Regions from separate parts of the Homo sapiens genome. Here regions 1 and 2 are each reported to be linked to region 3. The links are microRNA targets in miRTarBase. Many come from high-throughput screens and were not tested one by one. Region 3 holds a microRNA gene; each other region holds the end of a gene's coding sequence.
Evidence for each region. The annotated mature microRNA hsa-miR-4488 reads AGGGGGCGGGCUCCGGCG and lies in region 3 at 5,369-5,386, shown strand. An mRNA with a match to its seed (bases 2 to 7 or 8) in the 3' UTR can be bound and repressed. Matches are read on the target gene's strand: a 7mer-m8 pairs with bases 2 to 8, a 7mer-A1 pairs with bases 2 to 7 and ends in A, and an 8mer does both.

Region 1 (7,281 bases), not on the chromosome of region 3:
GGCCGGCGTGGCCTTGGCCGGGCAGGGGGCGGGGCGAGCGCCGGTGACGCGGCCGTTGCCATGGGAACTCGCCGCCCGCTCGCTCTCTGGAGCTGGAGCCGGAGCTGCCGCCAGCCGCCCGCCTCAGGCTCTCTCTGCCAGCCGTGCGGCCAGGCCCGCGGGGTGGTCGGGGGGAGCCGGGCGGCAGAGAAGGAGGGAGCGGGTACGGCCTCCTAGCCGAGACCGGTAAGCCGAAGCCCTTGAGCCGCTCGCTGCCGCTGCCGCCGCCGCCGCCGCGACCGCGAGGGACAAGGACAAGCGCCGAGCAGCGCCTGCCCAACCCCCGGAACGCGCACCCGCCCCAACGCCCAGACACGGACCGTGCGGGCCGCCCCCGCCCCAGCGCCGCCCCACTTCAGCCCGGCCCGCGCCCTGGACGCCTCCGCACCTCTGGCCGGCTCCGGCTCAGTCCCGGTAGCTCTTCTCCGCCCCCGCCGCAGCCTCCGCCGCAGCCGCAGCCTCCGCCACAGCCGCCGCCTCCACCCCCGGCCCCACTCCGCCCGCGACCCCTGCCGGGGCCCCGACCCCGGCCCTATCCCCGGCCCCGCCCGCGGCCCCACCAACCTCCGTTCCGGCCCCGTACCCGGAGGCCCAGCCGTGGGCACGATGCTGCCCAGCTCCATCCAGATTTCGGGGGAGCCGCTGTCCGGCGCCGAGGTGCGGGACATCTGCCGCGGCCTTCGCGACAACGCCGTGCGCCTGCTCTCACTGCGCGGCTGCCGCCTCTGCGACCGCGACTTTGGCCGCATCTGCCGGGCCCTGGCCGGGGCCACGTCCCTGGCGCAGCTCAACCTTAACCTGGGCGTCGTGTCCAGCCCCAGCCGCATCAAGCAGCTGGCTGAGGCTCTGCGGACCAACCGCTCCATCCAGTCCCTCTTGTGAGTGCGCCCCCTCGCAAGGGGGTCCCGGGCACTGCACCCTTCCATACACTCCCCTGGCACCTCCTGTTCCTCCACACTCCTTCCAGTACCATCCTACCTTCACATGCCTTATGCACATACACCGTGCCTCGGCCCATGCCTTCACAGCACCCTCCAAGCACATGCTTGGACTTTGCACGCGCGACCCTAGCCGTGTTGGGATACCCACCAGTTCCTGACATGAGGTGGGGGCCGTACCTCCCCACCTAATCATCTGCATTTACTTCACTGGGGCAGCTCCTTGGTTCCCAAGGGGGAATATCCCCGTGGGGACGAGAGCCCTGCCCACTGCAGAGTTCCGGTCCACCACCCACCCACCCCTTCTCTGCCCCTCCCTGTGCAATGTCCTGGATCCCTGCCCCAGAAAACAAACCGAATTCTCCCTCTATCTGTATTCCCTGAGAATCTAGAACTTTCCTTCTCCTTTTCCAGGCCTCTCAAGCGCTGTGACTGCCCTCCCCATACCTAGGGCTGACAGAAGTGAAAGTGCCCCTTTCCCATGTAGATAGTGCGGAGGACTGCAGTAACCCTGCTCTCTCACTCTCCTCCAGCCTGCATGGGAGCCCCCTGACAGATGCGGGGCTGGCCTTGCTGAACCCAGCCCTGGCCCTCCACCCTGCCCTCGTGGCTCTGGACCTGGGGGACTGCATGCTGGGTGATGAAGCCATCAACCTCATCTGTGGCCTCCTGCCCCCAGATGGGGCCAAATCTGGTGAGCAGGACCCTGTTGAGGGCTTGGGCTAGTGTGGCAGTGATGAAAATCGAAATGCAGAGGGAAGGGGGTGTGGCCCCAGAGCTCTGATGATGTGGGCGAGAACATCTTTCTACTCCTCTCAGGAAGGGGCAGGACGGGGGGCAGCATGGAGACTCAGGAATCCAGGCTGGGGCAGGCAGAGGAAGCATGGGCCTCCTTAATGGCTCTTGACCTCTATGGTGGGGGTAAGGTGGTGCCCAGCCACTAGGGACACCCCAGAGACACAGGGATTGTGGGGAAGGGCTGGAGGAGGGCTTAACCCTCCCTATTCTGGTTTCTTGCTATGATGCTGCCCAGGCTTGAAGGAGCTAACGCTGAGTGCCAACCCTGGCATCACCCCTAAGGGCTGGAGCCGCCTTGCCATTGCCGTGGCCCACAGCTCCCAGGTCCGCGTCCTCAATCTGGATTACAACCCCCTGGGTGAGGCTCAAGAATACCCCCTTGGGCTGTCACTGCCTCATGCCCTATCCAAGAGCCTGGGACCATCAGTTGACATGGTAACCCGTACACTGGGAGAGGGAAGAGAAACGGGAGCCCCCAGGGGTCAAGGAGATAGCTTTGTGGCGGACCAGGTGACCAACAAATAGATCAAAACATCAGTCACCACCCGTGGGCCTAACTTGCTTCGTGCCTTCACTCACCAATCACAATGATCCCTTCCTGACCACCACCAATTGTCCATGTTTCCTTGGCCAGGGATTAGTATCTAAAGTTGTTAAGGCAATGGGGAAGCTATCTGTAAGGATTAGCAGGCATGTGTATGAATGTGTGCACGTGTGTTGTCTCCCCAGGTGACCATGTGGCAGGAATGCTGGCTGTAGCTGTGGCCTCTAGTCGTACCCTAGAGGTCCTAGACTTGGAGGGCACAGGGCTCACCAACCAGTCAGCTCAGGTGGGAAGTCGTCATGTTTGGGCACGGCCAGGGGATGGGGTGGAGGTTAGTTTATGTGTCTGATGACATACCTAAGGCATGGCAGGTTGAGGTCTGAGGACCTGCCTTAACTGTGTTCATCCTTTTCCATATTCTTCCCCACTTCAGACCCTGCTGGACATGGTAGAAAATTACCCCACAGCTTTGCGGAGCCTGGTGTTGGCTGAGAACAGCATTAGCCCAGAGCTGCAGCAACAGATCTGTGACCTCCTCTCTGAGGGAGAGGAGGAGGAGGAAGTGGCAGGAGGGGCTGGCGACACCCAGGAATGGGAGAGAGGGCGGGAGCCTGCTGCCCACCAGAGAGGCAGCAGCTCCTGGATGTGCCCCAGCGGTAAGAACCCAGAGGGTTGATCAGAGCCAGGTCTGGAAGAGGCTCGGGACAAGGGAGAGTGGGTGTGCAGAACCTAGGCTCTCACCTATCTGTGGTCCCCATTGGAGGAAGGAATGGTGGTCTGAACACTTCTCTGCCCTTCCACAGATCCCAGCTCTCAGATGGTGCTAATGACGTCAGGACTAGGGGACAGTCTGTTGGCTGAGACCGAGATGTGACTCTCCACTGGGCCTCTGCACACCATTTCACTTATCTATGTCCCGAGCACCTTGCCCCAGATATCAGGGTCAGGCCCTGGGACTTGGGAGGGAACTGGGGTCAGGGGCTGCATGGGGGCTCTGGCAGCTCCTGGCAGTGTGGTGGGAAGGAAGCTCTGGAAGCTGTGACTGAGCAACAGCCTTGGGGGGCACTTGAACCCACGGCAATGCCTTTGAACTTGGCAGCTCTGGCTGCAACCCGCTGGCTCGGAAAAGATTTTATGAACTCCACAACCTGTCGTGTGGCTGTAGTCACTTGGGGCCGGCAGTAGGGGAGGAATTGGAACTACCAGTAAGCACCACTAGGGGGCAGTAGCATCGCACAGCCCAAGCTCTAAGCTGCGTGACCTGGTCCAGGATCTCAAAATAGGCCTGGCCAGGCCTAGAACCCAGGCCTCTGAGGCAACACCTTACACTAGCCCCATAAAGATATGGTCCCTGCCTCCGAGGGAAGACTCAGGAACCCTGCTAAGGTTACTTAAGGTGCCCCCTTTCCCGCTCCCTGATGCTCTGTGCCTAGGGAAACCCTAGGCAGAGTGGGGCGAGGGGGAGTCACTAGCCGACTAGGATGAGACTAGGACTGGGAATACTTATGAATGGGGAGAAAAGTGGGAGAGGGGAGGTCATTAAGACAAGTTAGGCCATACCAGTAAAATAGTTTTATTTGATTTTAAAATAGTCATCAATGTGAAAATTTCTCAAAGCTTAAGAGTAACAGTCTAGAGCCAAGGTTGGGAGTGGGGGCCAGGCCTCACACAGAGCCCAGCTTGAGGCCCCTGAGCCCCACCCTCCTTTCCAGAGGGAGGGAGGAGACAGCTGAGGGGGCCCTGAATCAGTCCTCTCCCTCGTCCCCAAGGCCAGCTGTGCCAGGCCCCTGGAGGGCAACAGCTCATGCGGAGGACTGGGGGGGGAAGCAAACAGGTAGGAAACGGAAATGAGGTTAACAATTACACCATCACCCCCAAAAAAAAACAAAATAACAAAACTTGTGACTATGAAAGGATGGAAGATGAATACTGATAAACTCCTCAGCTCCCCAGAAAAGCCCAGTCTGGGCTGGGTTGGGCTGATTGGAGGAAAGGTCTTGAGACCCAACTGCATGTTACCTCTGAAGAATAAATATTCTAAGAAAAAGGGAAAACCATGAGGCAAGCTGCTGCAGTCAGTCAACGCAGCTGACAGGCCTGGCATGGCCCACAACCTGACCCCATCCACACAGGAAACAGCTGTGCGGGTCTGGATAGAGGAGAGGTCAAGGGCTTGGACTGGGGACCCTGAGCTGCCAAGGTGTGGGGACTCCTTGCAGTCCTGGTGCAGCAATGGCAGGAAGGCCAGCAGGGGCCCTAGTTGAGCAGGTTGCCCTGCTCCTGGGCCTGGGTCAGGCTGTCCTTGCGGTGCAGGTGGTGAACCCCCATCCTCTTGGGGCTGCGCTGGGGGCGACTGGAGCTGGGGAGTGGCCAGGCCCTGCCCTCGGTGTGGGAAGTGCCTGGCCCCTCCTCTGTGCCCCTGTTAATGGGCAGCAGGCTCTGGCGCTCTTCCTCAGGACTGATAGGCAGGTTCAGCTCTTCTTCCTCCCTGGGAAAGCCAGAGTCAGGTTCTGTGGGTAGCAAAAGCTCACTCTCTTCGGGTCGGGCAGAAGGTGCCTGGACCACCTCATCTCTGTCAGCGGGGCTATGGGCAAAATGGCGCTGCAGCTCAGGGAGGGCATCGCGTCCAAAGGCTGTGCGCTGGGCCACAGCAGCAGGTGGTGGAGTACGGTCCACAAATGCCCGCTGCCAGCTGACCAGCAGGTCCTCTTCAGAGCTGGCAGAGCTAGCTGGGGCACTGAGTGTTAGGGGTGCTGGGCTGGGCTGGTGGTGGGGTGAGGCCTGGGCTGAGGCAGGGGTGCTGGGCACTGGGCTGGGGCGGGCCCGCTCACTCCCCTCCTCTACCAGGCTCAGGGAAATGGCCTGGCGGGTAGCGTAAGTGCAGTTGGGCAGGGGGCTGTTGCGGGGGATCCGAACCTTATCCTCAGAGAACTCTATTACCCTGCGGCCAGGATACAGTGGGTGTGGTGGAGACGGGGTTGGGTAGGGGTTCAGCTTCTCAAAGGCTGGCAGGGGCAGCTCTTCCTCCGGGGAGCCCCTGGCAGTACCCAGAGAGTGGCACTCCCCATTGGGTTGTGGGGTGGGGCTGCCAGGGGCCGGGGGACTGGCTGGATCACCTGGGACACCCTCACTCATGTCCACATGCACAAAGACATCCTCAGCCAAGGGGCGCCCGGCGCTGCCTGACTGGGCTGAATTGAGCAGTAGAGACTCCGGCTTCTCTAACACTCGGGCAATGACTGAGGTAGGCACCACAGCCCCTGGGGCTAGGCTGGGAGCAGGACCTGGGCTGGCGGCCTCTTGACCACTGTGCAAATGTTTCCGAACCATGTCCTGTAGCTCACAGGGCAGCTGAGGTAAAAGAGCAGGAAAGAGAGACATCAATGATCGCAGCCAAAGATAACTTGACTCATGGCGAAAGTAATGGCTCCCACCTTTAAGTACCTCTGTGTACTCAGCACTCTGCTATCTCCTGTTCTTACAGCATGCCAGTGTGTATACCCTCACTTCACAGACACATAGGCCTGGAGAGGGGAAGACAACTCAAAGCTTTGGTTAACTTGGCCAAGATTTAAACCCGGATCTGCTGCTGCAGCCAGCATGTTCTCAAACTTCTATCTCCCAGCTTCTGCCCAAACCATACTTAAGTTTGGAGAATCTGCATAGACCAGTAGCCTTAGAAATACCTCTACTTCTGGGCCGGGCACAGTGGCTCATGCCTGTAATCCCAGCACTTTGGGAGGCCGAGGCGGGTGGATCACGAGGTCAGGAGATCGAGACCATCCTGGCTAACACGATGAAACCCCATCTCTACTAAAAAGACAAAAAAATTAGCCAGGCGTGGTGGTGGGCGCCTATAATTCCAGCTACTTGGGAGGCTGAAGCAGGAGAATTGCTTGAAGCCGGGAGGCGGAGGTTGCAGTGAGCCGAGATTGTGCCACTGCACTCCAGCCTAGGTGACAGAGCAAGACTCCGTCTCAAAAAAAAAAAAAAAAAGAAATACCTCTACTTCTTCTACTTCTGCAGGCCACATAAACCTTGGGCCTGAAGCTGTGGGGTCTAGAGTTTACCCCTTGGGGTAACATGATCAGATGGGCCTAATCCTCTCTTAGTACTCTTTGGGCAGATAGCTCTGACTACCCTCTCCTTCCTGCCCAGGATCTTCTCTCTCTGTCTCTGTTACAGAAACCAACAGGGCTGGCCCCCCAGAACTAGTGATGGGCCCTGGACAGTACACGGGACACCAACCAGTGGCAGAGTTGACTGGCTTGAGAGGTGACATGGAGGCAAGAGGAGGGCAAAGTGGGAAGAGGAGGACAGAGAGAGGTGCAGAAACTGGAGTTAGAGGAGTCCTACAGTGGCCGGAATGGTCTATGTGGGCAGGGAGGGGGTGAGTTCTACTCACATCGGCAAACTTGTGGTTTCGGAAGTGGGACTTGTTGCACTTGAGGAGCTGTACAGCCAGGTTGCAGTCCAGCCGGTACCGCTCCTACAGACACAGACCTGTTTCAGAGCCCAGCCCAGCCCTCTCCAAGGAAGCAGGGCCGAGCCAGGACAAAGCTAGCCCCAGGTGAGGAAGGCCCGAGTAGTGAAGCGCACATACATTGAGCTCTTCCAGCTTGTTGATGGTGTTCTTGGCATCCAGCAGCTTGTTGGTCAGCTCCACAATCTCCCAGTCCAGCGTCTTCCTATCCATCTCAGCCTTCTTGATCTGAAGCACAGACTTGAGGTTAACCCAGCCCACACTCTAGCCAGCCCTTCCTCTCCCTCCACCTCCTCCCATCCTGGAGACACAAGAGGCCACAGGTGCTAGGGCAGCCAAGGCGGACAGAGCAGAGACAAATGACGGACAGACAGAAGGAGACTGGGCATCTCTCCCGCTCTCTGGACTGGCTGTGGGGTGGGGGCTTTCTTAGCATGACTTCCTGCCACCTGGGCCCAGGACACAGGCAGTATAAGAGC
Region 2 (7,281 bases), not on the chromosome of region 3:
TAGCGGCTTTCTTTGAAGAAGTGTGCTTAGATCTGGAGTCTTCACCTTCAGCCTACACGCAGGAGGCTCCACAGGAAAAGGTAGACATCCTCTGCCCCTCTGTCCACAGACACATCCATCCGTCTTTCCACACACGTCACTCATGGCTTCATTCACTCATCCACTCCCTCACCCTTTCAGCCACCATCTACCCATCTGTCCTTCCACTCATGCGTCTCCTCATCCTTAAAACCGCCCCCCGACCCTCTCTGCGCTCACTGGTGGCCACCAGATGCCGGCTCTGTGCTGGGCACGTGGAACGAATTGGACAAAATGGATAAAAAAGGATAAAAGCTGCCAGGTGCCCATAGAAAAGAAAACTCACATCATTTTATTCATTTATTTTATTTTATTTTATTTTATTTTATTTAGACTGAGTTTCCCTGTTGTCGCCCAGGCTGGGGTGCAGTGGTGCGATCTCGGCTCACTGTAACCTCCGCCTCCCGGGTTCAAACAATTCTCCTGCCTCAGCCCCCCTAGTAGCTGGGATTACAGGTGCCTGTCACCACACCCGGCTAATTGTGTATTTTTAGTAGAGATGGGGGTTCACCATGTTGGCCAGGCTGGTCTCCAACTCCTGACCTCGAGTGATCCGCCCACCTTGGCCTCCTAGAGTGCTGGGATTACAGGTGTGAGCCACCGTGCCCAGCTTCCCACATCATTTTACAACTACTCTACGAAGCAGGGTCTCCTGTGGCCCCATTTTACAGATAAGGAAATTGAAATCAAAAGACTAAGCTGGGCGCGGTGGCTCACACCTGTAATCTCAGCAGTTTGAGAGGCTGACGTAGGCGGATCACCTGAGATCAGGAGTTCAAGACCAGCCTGGCCAACATGGGGAAACCCCATTTCTACTAAAAATACAAGAAGTGTCCGGGCGTGGTGGCTCACGCCTGTAATCCCACTATTTTGGGAGGCCGAGGAGGGCAGATCACCTGAGGTCAGGAGTTGGAGACCAACCAGTCTGGCCATCATGGCGAAATACTATCTCTACTAAAAATACAAAATTAGCCGGGTGTGGTGGTACGTGCCTGTAATCCCAGCTACTCAGGAGGCTGAGGCAGAAGAATCGCTTAAACCTGGGAGGCGGGGGTTGCAGTAAGCCAAGATGGCACCGTTGGACTGCAGCCTGGGCAACAAGAGCGAAACCCAGTCTCAAAAAAGGAAAAGAAAAAGAAAAAGAAATTATCAGGGTGTGGCCGGGCGTGGTGGCTCATGCCTATACTTCTAGCACTTTGGGAGGCTGAGGCGGGCAGATCACCTGAGGTCAGGAGTTTAAACCTAGCTTGACCAATATGATGAAACCCCCTCTCTACTAAAAATACAAAATTAGCTGGGCGTGGTGGTGGGCACTTGTAACCCCAGTTACTCAGGAGTCTGAGGCAGGAGAATCACTTGAACCCAAGAGGTGGAGAATGGAGCTGAGATGGTGCCATTGCACTCCAGCCTGAGGGACAAGAGTAAGACTCCGTCTCAAAAAAAAAAAAAAGAAAGAAAAGAAAAAAAAGAAAAGAAAGGAAGAAAGAAAGAAAGACAGGGTCTTGCTTTGTTGCCCAGGCTGGAGTGCAGTGTCACCATCATAGATCAGTGCCTTGAACTCCTGGGCTCAAATGACCCTCCCACACCACCATGCCCAGCTGGTTTTTTAAATTATTTTTAAATTTAACTTAATTCAATTTCTTTTTTTTTTTTTGAGACAGAGTCTCACTCTGTCACCCAGGCTGGAGTGCAGTGGTACGATCTCGGCTCACTGCAACCTCCGCCTCCTGGATTTAAGCGATTCTTGTGCCTCAGCCTCCAGAGTAGCTGGGACTACAGGCGCCCACCAACATACCTGGCTAATTTTTTAGTATTTTTAGACAGAGTTTCGCCATGTTGGCCAGGCTGGTTTTGAACTCCTGACCTCAGGTGATCCTCCTGCCTCAGCCTCCGAAAGTGCTGAGATTACAGGCATGAGCCACTGCGCCTGGCCTATTTTTTTTTTTTTTTTTTTTTTTTTTTTGTAGAACAAGGTCTCTCTATGTTGCCCAGGCTGGTCTGTAACTCCTGGCCTCAAGCAGTCCTCCTGCCTCAGCCTCCCAGAGTGTTGGGGTTACAGGCGTAAGCCACCACACCCTGCCAATCTGAGCTGCTGCTAATGCTCATGTTATGTCCTAGAAAAGCAGTACTGGGGGGATGAAGGGGCACCACTTGTCTCCCCTCCCATCTTTCTCCCTCATCATGCCCCAGGACACAGCCTCCAAGGCCCCCAAAGACCCTCCTGAGTCCCACAGCCTGCACCGGTCCTCAGTCTCGCTGGACCACTGCTACCTCTCGCTGAGCGGGAACAGCAAGGCGCCATCCAGCTCCAGCTCCAGCTCCAGCTCCAGCTCCAGCTCGGAGGACAGCGACTCGGAGCCCCTGTGGAAGCAGCGAGAGGTGAGAGACACGGCCGCATGCCAGGGCCAGCAGGGCCTCCTTCCTCTCTCACCACCCTCTCCCTCCCCCAGGATATGCAGGCCAACCCTGTGGGCACGCCGGGCTCCAGCGAAGAGGACGAAGACACCACATGGACCCCCACCCGGCTGGCCTCACCCCTGCTGGCAGCTGAGAAAAAGGCCACGAAGGGCCAAGTAGCCAGGGCCCCTGTGAAGCCCAAGGAGAAGAAGAAAGGCCCCTGCCCACCCCAGATGAAGAAGAAGTGTGTCAACGGCTTCATCATGTTCTGCAGGATGAACCGGAAGCAGTACATCCGGTGGGTAGGGGGTCGTCTTTGGCCCTGGGGAAGGCCCTGGCTTCGTTCTCTGCCCGCAGCCTGGCCATGCCGCTCCTCACAACTGTCTGACACTTTTTCCCCCTCCGAGACCCCACAAACCCTTCGTGGACCACAGTTCTTCCCCAGAACTGAACCCGGCCCCATTGTATTGGACAGGGTCCATCCATTGTCAGCGCTGAAACCCAATTCAGGCTTTAGACTTCAGAAAAAAAGGAGTTTTTTTTGTTTTGTTTTGTTTTTTGAGACAGAGTCTCACTCTATTGCCCAGGCTGTAGTGCAGTGGCACAATCACAGCTCACTGCAATGTCTGCCTCCCGGGCTCAAATCACTGCAACCTCTGCCTCTCAGATTCTCCTGCCTCAGCCTCCTGAGTAGCTGGGATAACAGGCGCGCCATCAGCTAATTTTTGTATTTTTAGTAGAGACAGGGTTTCACCATGTTGGCCAGGCTGGTCTCGAATGCCTCACCTCAAGTGATCTGCCTGCCTCGGCCTCTCAAATTGCTGGGATTACAGGTGTGAGCCATCAGGCCCAGCAAGAAAAGAAAATGAATTGGCTTATATAACCTAGAAAACAAGGGCGGGTATAGACTGCCTTGAGACATAGCTGGTTTTAGGGCTCACACAGGCTGTCTGGAATCTTTGTCCTTTTCACCCAGTTCCTCTGTCTTCCGGGCTGGCTTCATTCTCTGGCAGGTGGGGTCACCCCAGGAGGCACAGGCTCGGGTCCTGTCCCCCACCCAAGCGACCCCGGGAGGAGGAGAGGTCTCTAAGGTTTTAAGCAAAGTCCTTGGGACTGACTTTGGTAGATCCGGTGCCAACCCTGAACCAGTCACTGCCAGGCCTGGAGCCAGGGGATGGGGAGGCCCCCCCCAAGCCACAGTGGAAAACAGCTAGTTCCTTTACAGGAAGATCCAGATGTGGGGGCCAGGAGCGGTGCCCACAGGTCCCCTGCACTCTCCTGGGACACCAGGTGCCCCCTTGTGAACAGCCGCTGAGTCCAGCTCCCTCTGCCTCCTCAGCTCCAGAGGGTGGTCTTGGAGGCCTTGTAGACCCACAAGGCTAGGAAGGGTCTGAGTTCTCAGTCAGGGTGTCCTGCAGACCTCTCCTTACCTCCTCCTCCTTCCTGTCCCAGATCCTGCCCTGGAACCGCTTCCACAGCTGCCACCAAGGAGCTGGCCCAGCTGTGGCGGGTGATGACCCAGCAGGAGCGGAGGCCATACTGGTGAGAGGCTCCGGCCCCGAGGTGTGGGTGGGGGGTGGAAGAGCCTCCCTACCCCGGAACCCTGCTCTGTCTCTGGAGCCTTGGGTGTCATGGCATGGGAGACTGGGCCGAGGAATTTGCGTGTTGCCCCTTCTTATGAAACCCTTGGGGGTGACACAGGTGTAGGGGTACCCCACCACAGCTAAGCTGGGGAACAGCTGAGCCCAGACATGGACCCCTGCCTCAATTCTTTTGCTGTCTCTGCCACACGACTTTCTCGGGGCGTGGTCTGATTTTCCTGTCGCTTGGCCACCTCGACTCCCCCGAATCCTGTCCCCTCCACCTTCAAGGAGCTGCCACCTGCCCTGGCTCCTGACTTTGAACACATCCCAGAGCCCTTGGCCGAGTCCCATCTTACTGACTGGGACTTGGTGGACCCAAGGCTCGCCCAATAGAGGCTAAAACGGTGGCCCAGGCCCCTGCGGGGACACAGGATTGGGAGTGGTACAGGGATGCCCGGGAGGCGAGTGAGGAAGCCAGGCCATCCTGCCACCGTCTCCCCAGCACCAAGGCTCGCAGGTTCAGCCGCCAGCACAACCGCATCGTGAAGCAGGACGGCTCCAGCAGCGAGGCTGAGGACTGGGAGACGCCAAAGCCCTTCTACCAGCTGCTGGCCGAGAAGGCCTTGCCGCTGCCCCCGCACCTCCAGTGAGAGGGCGGCCCCTCGCCTCGCTCCCCTCACCCCTCATGGCAACCGCGGCTCTTGCTGGAAGCCAGGACCCATCGATGAACTTGTCCCTCCTGGGCCTCCAGCCCCTGAGAATGCAGGTCCCATGGGACTGGGGAGGGGGGCACTGATTAGCCCCAACCGCTGGGCACATTTGCCTGGAGCACCAGAGTCACCCACAGCTGCCTTGATTCTCCCCCAGGCTTAGGAAGGAAACCCAAAATGAAATGCGGGGTGTCGGAAGGTGAAGTTTACCCACCCCTCTCCCCTTCCCTTCCCCACCCCAGAGCCACTCGGTTGCAACCCTGTTCATGCTCACCTCACCCTACTCCTCCCTCTCCTGTTCTATTTTTAGACTATTTATTGTTTTAAATAAAATAAAGCAAGTGGAACCTTTGTTACCAGCAAGAGAGACAAGGGCAGGCCCTCCTGCGTCCCCCTGCTGCCCCACTGGGGTGCTCCGTCCACCCTCATCTGGAGGCCTGTGGCTTGCAAGAGGCCTCAGTGCCACCCCCTCCCCAGCCACTCTGTGCATCTGAATGCAAACCCCTCTTCCCCTCGGGAGGCAGCAATGGGAAGGCCAGGTCTCGAGGTGGGCTCTGTGTTCAGCGCTGCTTTGGACAGACACTGGAAGGCACCCCAGACCCCTGGTGGTGGTGTAATCCGATAACTTTATTTTAATTGAAAATGGAGGCATAACATGTCCTAGAAAAATAAAGATTTAGGATACAAAGGAGACACAGCGGCAGGGCTGCCCCCAGGGATGAGGGAATCTTTGGTCTGGGCCGGATAATGAGGACAAGGGCTTGAGTCGAGGGGAGCTGGTGAAGGAAGACCCCCGTCTCCCCACAGCTGCCCCACCCCCCGCCCCTGGCAGGAAATGCCACACTGGGGAGGGTCTCCAGTCTCAGGGGCGCGGGGCTGCCTGTCCTCCACCTTCGGATTCCAGGCAGTTGTGACAACACCAGCTATCGGCAGAGCTATTAATAGTGTTTCAGGGAGTGACAGGGAGAGGGCTCTGGGGGCTGGAAGTCCGGCCCTGGGGCAGGGTGTTCCGCTTACAGCTAGTACCAAGTGGAGGGGGCAGGGCCCCTGAGTCAGGACCCTGAGTCCCCCACGTATATGGCAGGGCACAGCATGGGGAGGGCTGTAACAGAGAGGCCTCCCATCCAAAGGGGGATGGAGACCTGGACAGGAGGTGGCCGGGGATACAACCCCCAGCACCACCAGGGCTTGGAGAGGCCACCCAGGCAGAAGGATGTGGTGACTGGGGTCTTCAGCAACCGCATTTCTGGGGCTCCCCCCTCCCATTCCTGTCCCTGCGTCTTCAGCACCAATGTCGGGAGAGGCCACGGGGCCACACTGGGTCACAGTTCCAAGGGCTCCTCCACAGGCACCGACTGGAGCTGGGTCAGAACCTTGGCCTCAGCTTCCAACCCCTCGTCAACCTCACCCCCTGCGGTGGCCCCCAGGAGCAGCCCCTCAGGGTCGGGGTCTGGCAGCCTCAGCACGGTGTGGGGGGCCTGTGTCCCCAGCCCCTTTTCCGCTTCCAGCAGCCCCTCTGTTCCTGCGCTTAGTTCCAGCCCTGCTGACCAGACAGGCACGGCCGCGGGTGACAACATCAGCCCCTCTGGTGGGGGCGCCGGGAAGTTGGGCAGGAGGCCAGGGGAGTCAGGGGAGAAGGGCAGGCTGGTGCTGGAGGTGGTGGCAGCGGCGGGGGGTGGCTGCTGTGCAGAAAGGGTGCCTAGGGCGTGAGCCTCTGGGAGAGCAGGGCTGGGGGCCACCGGGAGGCCTCCCTCAGGCACGGAGATGGCCGTCTCTGGCTTCAGTGGCAGGGCCAGGCCGGGGGCTGGCGGCAGGACCTGGGAGACGAGCATGCTGGTGGGGAAGGTGGCGGTGAGGATGATCTTGCCCTGCTGCAGGGCCACACCCGTCACGATGGGGCTGCCAGACACAGGGTTGGCCAGGAGGAAGTTTCCTGTGGGGAGAGAGGGACCGAGCGCAGGTGAGAGCCAGGAGAGCAGGCCAAGCCAGAGAGAAGTGGAGACTGTGCAGCTGGAGGGCGGGCGGAGGGAGCCTTGTGGTGGGCCTTGGGGCACTGGGACTTGCCAGGGATGAGATGCCCTCCAGGAGCCCAGGGACAGCCCCTCCCTCTCCGAGATGACTGCACCCCTCCCCGGCTCTCACCTAGGCCTGAGGGAGGGAGATGGGGGTACCTGGGGCAGTGGCCGAAGGCAGCTGCAGGGCAGTCACGCCCACCCCGGAGTTGATGAGGTGCACATTGGCAGGGCCTGCTGCAGCTGCCACCTTCACAGGGCTGCCTGGCCCGGCTGCCAACAGCTGCAGGGGCCCCACAGCCTGGGGCAGGGTCACCACCTGTGAGGTGGGTACTACCTGGGGCAGGTTCAATAGTGGGGAGGTGGGGCTCAGGCCCGTGGGATACCCCGGGGGTGGGGAGAGCGGTACCACTTGTGGGGCAGCCACAGCAGGCACTGGCCCCGGGGGCAGAGGAAAGGTGGCAGCCGTCGGGGGGCCAGGCACCACTTGGGCCAGGGGCC
Region 3 (7,111 bases):
GACCTGATTTGGGGTTCCTAGGCTTGCCCTGTGGATTTCAGGATACCCCCTAGTTAGGCAAACATATGAGCCCTGGGGCCTGGGATGGGAAAGGGGAAGTGGTGTGGCTCATAGCCACTCTTGTCCTCTCTGACAACATCAAAACCTCCAAGCAGGGCACCCCTAGAAATATTTTTGCTGTTTGCAGGATGGAGGTGAGCGTTTGAGCACCCAGGGTGGTTTCTCTAATTTCTCCTAGACCACAGAGTCAATGAGACATCGTCGACAAAGCCCGGGCTTTGCAATAAGATGGACTGGGTTTGAATCCTGGCTCCGCCCCTTACCGGCTGTGTGACCTTGTAGCTTGGCAGTGGCTGTTTAACCACACTGAAACTCAAACTACTTAACCTCTCTGAATCTAATCTGTTTCTTCATCTGTAGAGCCAGAGGGTGGTGGAGAGTATAGTACCTGCTCGGCAGAGCTGTTGTGAAGAATAAATTTGACAACCTGTATGTGCTGAGTAAACGACAGCTAGCATTATCCTGTGGGAGAGAACCAAGAGGAGAGAGGTTAAAGTTGCACAAAACCCTTTCCCCAACACACACACATACACATGCATGCACGCATGCACGCACACACGTACACGCATGCACACACGTGTGCGTGCACACACACACACATACCCCCCCATATCCTGCAGCCATAGCCAAAGGGATCCTGTTAAAACATGTGTCCTCTGTGCAAAATTCCCGGATGACCTGTCACCTAGAGTCAAAGCCAAAGTCCTCATGAAGGACAGGGGCCCTCCTCGGCCTGCCCAGTCCTTACTTTCTGTCTCTGATCTCCTGGACCACCATGCTTCCCCTTGCTCCCTGGGCTGGGCCCCTTGCTGCTCCCAAAGTCCCAGGCATACTCTTGCCCTAGGGGCTTGGCACTGCCATCTCCACTGCCAGGAGTGTACCCTGCCATCTTTGCTCAATGCCATGGTCTCAATGAGACCTCCTTTGGCCACTCAGATGTTTTTTTGTTTTTTTTTTTTAGACAGAGTCCAGATCTGTTGCCCAGGCTGGAGTGCAACGGGCAATCTCAGCTCACTGCAACCTCTGCCTCCCGGGTTCAAGCAATTCTCCTGCCTCAGCCTCCCAAGTAGCTGGGATTACAGGCACCCACCACCACCCTGGCTAATTTTTGTACTTTTAGTAGAGACAGAGTTTCACCATGTTGGTCAGGCTGGCCTCGACCCCCTGACCTCAGGTGATCTGCCCGCCTCGGCCTCCCAAAGTGCTAGGATTACAGGCATGAGCCATCGTGCCCGGCCTTAGCCACTCAGTTTTAAAGGACAGCCCCTCCCCACCCCCCACACATTTCTCAGTCCTCCTCTCTCTTTTTTTAAAATTAAAATTAAAATTAAAATTTTTTTATTAATAGAGATGGACTTTCACCATGTTGGCCAGGTTAGTCCTGAAGTCCTTGCTTCAAGTGATCCACCTACCTTGGCCTCCCAAAGTACTGAAATTACAGGTGTGAGCCAACATGCCCGGCCAGTCCTCCTCCTTTCTTTTCCCTGCTTTATTTCTTCCGTAGCCTGATCATGACCTGACACGTGTTTTGTTGATGATCTCCACTCGCATGAATATAAGTTCCACAAAGGCAGGGGGTTTGTCTATTATGTTTACATTCATAGTAATCCCCAGTGCCTAGGCATAGAAGTAGGTGCTTAAGGTTTGTTGAATGAATACCTGAAAGATGGCAGGAACTGAAGTTCTGGCTGATGCAGGAAAGGGGAGTGGGCCATGAGGTGAGGACATCATCGCTTTCCTTTTTTGCCAAATGAATGGGTTGGCCTAGACACCCAAGAGACCATGAACCCCTGGGAATTGCGTACATCATTGGGTGAGTCTCTGCCTCCATGCATTTTTCTGGAACAAGGGTCCCTACCTTCTTGCAGACATTGAAGAGAGCCTGTGACCTCCCAGAGGCGCTAAGCACCCTTCCAGCTCTGACATCGTATAGTTGGCTCTAATAGGTTTGAATCCTTGTTTTCTAAGAACCTAGGATGCTAAGATCCCATCATCTTATTCAGCAGCCAGGGGGGTCCTGGCCCCAAGGCAGGGAGGGGAATCCAGAGGGGACTTTGGCAGGGTCAGTGTGGAGGGGGCGGTAGTGCCTATGGGGACATTGGAGGGGAGACAAAGGAGACTTGTATATTACGTGTGCCGTTTTCTTCCTTTTATTTAAAAGAAAATAGGTTTAAAGCAAGTTTGATGAAATGTGAACAATTGTCAATGCTGGGTACTGGGCATGGGGGTGTTTATCACAGCGCCACACTTTTCCTATATTTTAAGAAATCCTTTAAAAAATACAGAGTTGGGGGTGGGCACTAATAGTTATAGCTCATGATTAGTAACAGAGAGGCAGTTTCTGGGGCCCTGGGGGACCTGCACTTTGGGTGTTTTTGCAGTGTGTGTGGGGGCAGAGGGGCTGGCCAGGGTCTGGGACCCATGCCTGGAGCTGACAGAGTCCTCTCTCCTCCCCTGCTTCCCCCTCCCAGGTCTCAGTTTCCTGCCTTCCTGGGAAGTGGGGAAAGGCTGAGAGGCCCCGTGCTGGGGGTGAAGCTAATTCATTAGTTACGCCTCAACAAGGACCGGGTGCCTGCAGTGCCAGCGTGATTCATCATGATGATTGCCCCACTGCCAGCCTGCGTGGGCCTGGAACGCCAGCACATTTTACCTTTACCCACTGAGAAGGGCCTGGTGGGAGGTGAAGGTACAGGATCTGCCGAGAGCAAGAAAAAGACTCTGAGAAAGAAGAGGGCTGGTCCTCCATGCTCTCGGCCCCAGGAAGCTCTGCCAGGCTGGTGCCGGGGTGGAGAGGCTCATGTGGGCTCATGTGGTGCTGCCTGTGCTGATGGAGCCCAAGAGGGCAGCCTGGCGCTGGGTGCCAGCCTGAGCATGTGGCGAGGCTGGGCTGCTGAGCCTCCTCCTCCACAGCCAATGTTCCCTCAAACTGCTTGGGGGTGGGGGGAGGGACTCATCCTCATCCCATTAGCCTGGCTGGGTATTCCCTACCTTTCTGGTCTCTGAGAGACTTACCTCTTCCAAGAAGTCCTCCCGAATGAGTAGAAGGGAGAGAGCTGGATTGGAACTTAAGTGACATCTGGGAGGAGCCTGAAGCCCCTCCGGTTGGGGCTGAGACTCCTATACCCTAGGTCTGGTGTCTGGGTTCCACCTGGGTCCTCTACCTTGGCCTGGATTCCTGCTTTCGTTTTGCCAGTCTCTCCCAGGATGGGGGTGCATGGCTGGTTCGTGGCTCAGAGCAACATCTGCCTCTGTGTCCCCCCATCATCTGTCCGCCCCCTAACACCTCTTGCCATATTAGAATTGCTATTGCTCTGTCCTTTCATTCATGTATCCAACAAATATATATTATCTGAAAAAAAGCATGTGCTGAATAATTTCATTTGTGTGAAATTCAAGAACAGGGAAAACTGATCCATAAGGATAGAGGTCAGGATCATAGTTGCCTCTGTGAGGTGGGGATTGACCGCAAGAGGCTTGAGAGAACTCTTGGGTTGATGGAAATGGGACAGGGGTGTGTACATTTGTCAAAACGCATCCAAGAAGACACTTACGATCTATGCATTTCACTGTATGCAATGTTTGCCTCCACTTTTTTTGTTAAGTTTTTTTCAGCAAGGCGCAGTGGCTCATGCCTATAATTCCAGCACTTTGGGAGGCTGAGGCAGGTGGATCACCTGAGATCAGGAGTTCGAGACCAGCCTGACCAACATGGTGAACCCCTGTCTCTTCTAAAATACAAAAATTAGCTGGGCGTGGTGGTGGGCACCTGTAATCTCAGCTACTTGGGAGGCTGAGGCAAGAGAATCGCTTGAACCCAGGAGGCGAGGCGGAGGTTGCAGTGAGCCAAGATCACGCCATTGCACTCCAACCTATGCAACAAGAGCAAAACTCTGTCTCTAAATAAATAAATAAATAAATAAATAAATAAATAAATAAATAAAAATTTGCATGGAATGTCTACTGTATGCTCTAGAGCCTGTGCCAGCAGGGAAGGAGATGCCCAAACCTCCCTGGCTGGGCAGCTTACTTTCCAGTGGGGATGGTTCCCTTCCTCCCGTTGCATTGGCAACTGCTCTCTGCCCTTGGGCTGTCTTCCATCCCCCTTCCCCTGCAGTGGGGATGGCAATGGGGGTGGGCCAAAGGGCAGCGTGCTCTCCTGAAGTCAGTCCACTCAGCCAGTTACATGGGTCACACCAGCCGGGTTCAAGAGAAGGCAGGAGGCAGGAGGCTTGGAGCCCGAAAATTTGGCTCCCGGGCTGCAACCTCTATGCATTGTGTGACCGTAAGCAGGGTGCCTAATCCCCGCGAGGCCACTTCTCTCATCTTTCATGTGGGATTATAGTGCTGTCTTTGTAGCTTTGTCCAGAGAATCAGAGGCTCTGTTGTGAGAAAATTCATTGCTGGAGGTGGAGTGAACCTTGTTTCCATCTATCGGTATGGTTTATGGTTAGGAACACAGGCTCTGGAGTCACACTACCTGGCTTCGAATCCAGCTGCTCATCAGCTGGGTGACCTTGGGCACTTCACTCAGCTCAGACTGACCCAGCTCAAGTCATGTCTCTTTGACCCTCAGTTTCTCCATCTTTAAAATCGGGGTGATGAGGGTGTCTACCTCATAGGCTGTGCCAAGGACTCAACGCAATGCTTTCAGCATAGTGCTGGGCACACGTGGGCTCGAAGCCAGTGACAGCCAGTGCTTTTCTGCCAGGAGCTCCCGCAGGAGGGCTCCGGATGGGAGGTGGGGGGAGAAGGCAGGGGGGAACTGCTGCTGGTGGTAGCAGGCGAAGGAAGAAGAGTCATGGAATGAGAGTGGCCATGATTGGTGGCTCAAAGGCGTTCACGTGTCCCAGTCCTCTGTCCACCGCAGCCACACACAGACTTTGAGCGTCGGTGGAGGGATCCTGGCAGGAGAGAGGGGTGTGAGTGTAGCAATGAGGAAGCTGTAGGGCAATTAGGCGGGGCGGAGCCAAGCCCTGGGGCCCGGTAAAACCAGCAGATGTGAAAAGGGCCGGACAGTAACACTGTTTCGAGTTACTACACTGAAGTGATCCCAGCAGGTAGGCCGGCCGCACGCCGCTGGACGTGAATGGCTCGCAGTGACCGCGCCCCTCAGCCCCTCCTTGTGAGCCTCTAGTCCAGAGTCTTTGATCCACCGCCAGCGTTTCCTTCGCCTTCTTGGACCCGCGGCTCTGGGGCGCACACAACCGCACACCAAACAGCGTCGGGCGTCGGGTCTCAGTGCCAGGCTTGGCCGGGGCGGGGAATCTCTCGGCTTGTGCTTGCTCCGCGGTGGGCTGGATGGGCAGGTAGGGGGCGGGCTCCGGCGCTGGGACCCCACTAGGGTGGCGCCTTGGCCCCGCCCCGCCCCGCCCTCCCTCCGCCTCATTGGCAGCCGCACGCGCGTCGGGGTTGCCAGGGCGACGGGTCGCTAAGCTGCGAGTCAGCGCGAACCCTAGCCAGTCGGCCTCCGGCGGAGGCAACGGGGGAGGCCCGAGGGCGGGCGGTGGAGCGCGGCGCGCGGCGGCGGTGCCCCAAGTGGGTGCCTCCTCCCGGCCCCGCACGGCCCCCCTCCCGGCGCGGGGGAAGGCCGGGGCGGGGGGCCCGGGGGCCGGCGCGGCTCCGGCACCGTCGGGGCGGCTGGGGGGCGGCCGGGGCGGGGCGATGCCTGGCGGTGGCAGTGGCGGCGGCCCCGGCCGGGGCCCGTGACCATGGGCATCGCCGAGTCCACGCCGGATGAGCTGCCGTCGGACGCAGAGGAGCAGCTGCGCAGCGGCGACCAGCAGCTGGAGCTGAGCGGGCGGCGGTTGCGGCGGCTGCCCAGCGCAGTGTGCGCGCTGAGCCGCCTGCAGAAGCTGTATGTGAGCGGCACGGGGCTGCGCGAGCTGCCGGAGGAGATCGAGGAGCTGCGCGAGCTGCGCATCCTGGCGCTGGACTTCAACAAGCTCGAGCGACTGCCTGACGGCCTGTGCCGCCTGCCGCGCCTCACGCGCCTCTATCTGGGCGGCAACCGGCTGCTGGCGCTGCCCGCCGACTTCGCGCAGTTGCAGAGCCTGCGCTGCCTCTGGATCGAGGGCAACTTCTTGCGGCGCTTCCCGCGGCCGCTGCTGCGCCTGGTGGCGCTGCAGTCGCTCCAGATGGGCGACAACCGGCTGCGCGCGCTGCCGGCCGAGCTGCCGCGCATGACGGGCTTGCGCGGCCTCTGGCTCTACGGCAACCGCTTCGAGGAGTTCCCGCCCGCGCTGCTGCGCATGGGCCGCCTGCACATCCTCGACCTCGACCGCAACCGCCTGGGCGGCTTCCCCGACCTGCACCCGCTGCGCGCGCTGCGCGTCTTCTCCTACGACCACAACCCCGTCACCGGGCCCCCGCGCGTCGCGGACACCGTGTTCCTCGTGGGCGAGGGCGCCGTCGAGCGCATGGCGGAGCGCGACGAGCCCACGCCCCGGCCTCCGCCCCGGCGCCCAGCGCGGGCCTTTGAGGATGAGGAGGAGGAAGACCTGCTCATAGGCGGCGCTGGTTCCCGGGCTCTGGGCGCCCCCGGGGGCAGCTTCCGCGCCCTGGAAGCCGCTCCAGGACTGGGCACCTGAGCCTATGTTCTGGCTGATGGGCTTCAGCCACTCTGAGAGGAGGGGCTCTAGGAAGCTTTGGCTGGTTAGGCCTGCGGGACTGGTGGGTCCCTACTTAGGTCAATGGAACGGCTACTTTTGGCGAGTTGCCGGGCACAGGCAGGGCTGGGGCTCATCTTCAGACACTCCTAGGTAGTAAGAGGACTGACTATACCCTGGCTGATCTGTGGGCAATTGTCAGACCAAGAAGTCTGGGCTGGGTCCAGTCCCCGATGGAGCCACTGATAACAGAGGCACCAGCTTCCTCCTGGAACCAGGGTCTCTGAGGGCCACAGAATTGTCACGTCTCCCTGAGTCTGGATGCAGGGCACCCAACACCCTCCCTCTTTCTGGGGTTTGGGTCTCCTAGGCCCACCCTTTCTAGGACAGGAGCCGCTACCTCTGGGATGGACTGCGTGCCTGTGTGGGGCAGGACTGCCCTTGCG

Region 1: miRTarBase lists TJAP1 as a target of hsa-miR-4488. Seed matches in the 3' UTR shown: 7mer-A1 at 3,971-3,977.
Region 2: the mRNA of SIX5 is a reported target of hsa-miR-4488. Seed matches in the 3' UTR shown: 7mer-A1 at 5,743-5,749.

The regions. Positions count from the first base shown.
Region 1 is chr6:43,503,150-43,510,430 of GRCh38, reverse strand. TJAP1 (tight junction associated protein 1) reads right to left here. Exons shown (of 11, transcript NM_001350562.2): 9 at 6,923-7,030; 10 at 6,725-6,808; 11 at 3,877-5,670. The coding sequence ends at 4,576. It overlaps LRRC73 (leucine rich repeat containing 73), which reads left to right and starts at 85. Exons shown (of 6, transcript NM_001012974.4): 1 at 85-917; 2 at 1,511-1,671; 3 at 2,011-2,133; 4 at 2,505-2,605; 5 at 2,753-2,975; 6 at 3,123-3,463. The coding sequence starts at 646. The coding sequence ends at 3,193. RefSeq lists silencers at 1-217, 238-507.
Region 2 is chr19:45,759,411-45,766,691 of GRCh38, forward strand. It overlaps SIX5 (SIX homeobox 5), which reads right to left. Exons shown (of 3, transcript NM_175875.5): 2 at 6,940-7,281; 3 at 5,375-6,701. The coding sequence ends at 6,091. It overlaps MEIOSIN (meiosis initiator), which reads left to right. Exons shown (of 15, transcript NM_001310124.2): 11 at 4-80; 12 at 2,269-2,457; 13 at 2,529-2,773; 14 at 3,928-4,017; 15 at 4,561-5,131. The coding sequence ends at 4,708. Among named protein-coding and RNA genes, the nearest start is that of DM1-AS, 4.7 kb to the right of the region's middle. RefSeq lists an enhancer at 4,132-4,686.
Region 3 is chr11:61,503,231-61,510,341 of GRCh38, forward strand. It overlaps MIR4488 (microRNA 4488), which reads left to right and starts at 5,366; the gene lies at 5,366-5,427. LRRC10B (leucine rich repeat containing 10B) reads left to right here and starts at 5,519. Exons shown (of 1, transcript NM_001145077.2): 1 at 5,519-7,111. The coding sequence starts at 5,769. The coding sequence ends at 6,647. It overlaps LOC105369329 (a long non-coding RNA gene), which reads left to right. Exons shown (of 3, transcript NR_188527.1): 3 at 2,532-3,419.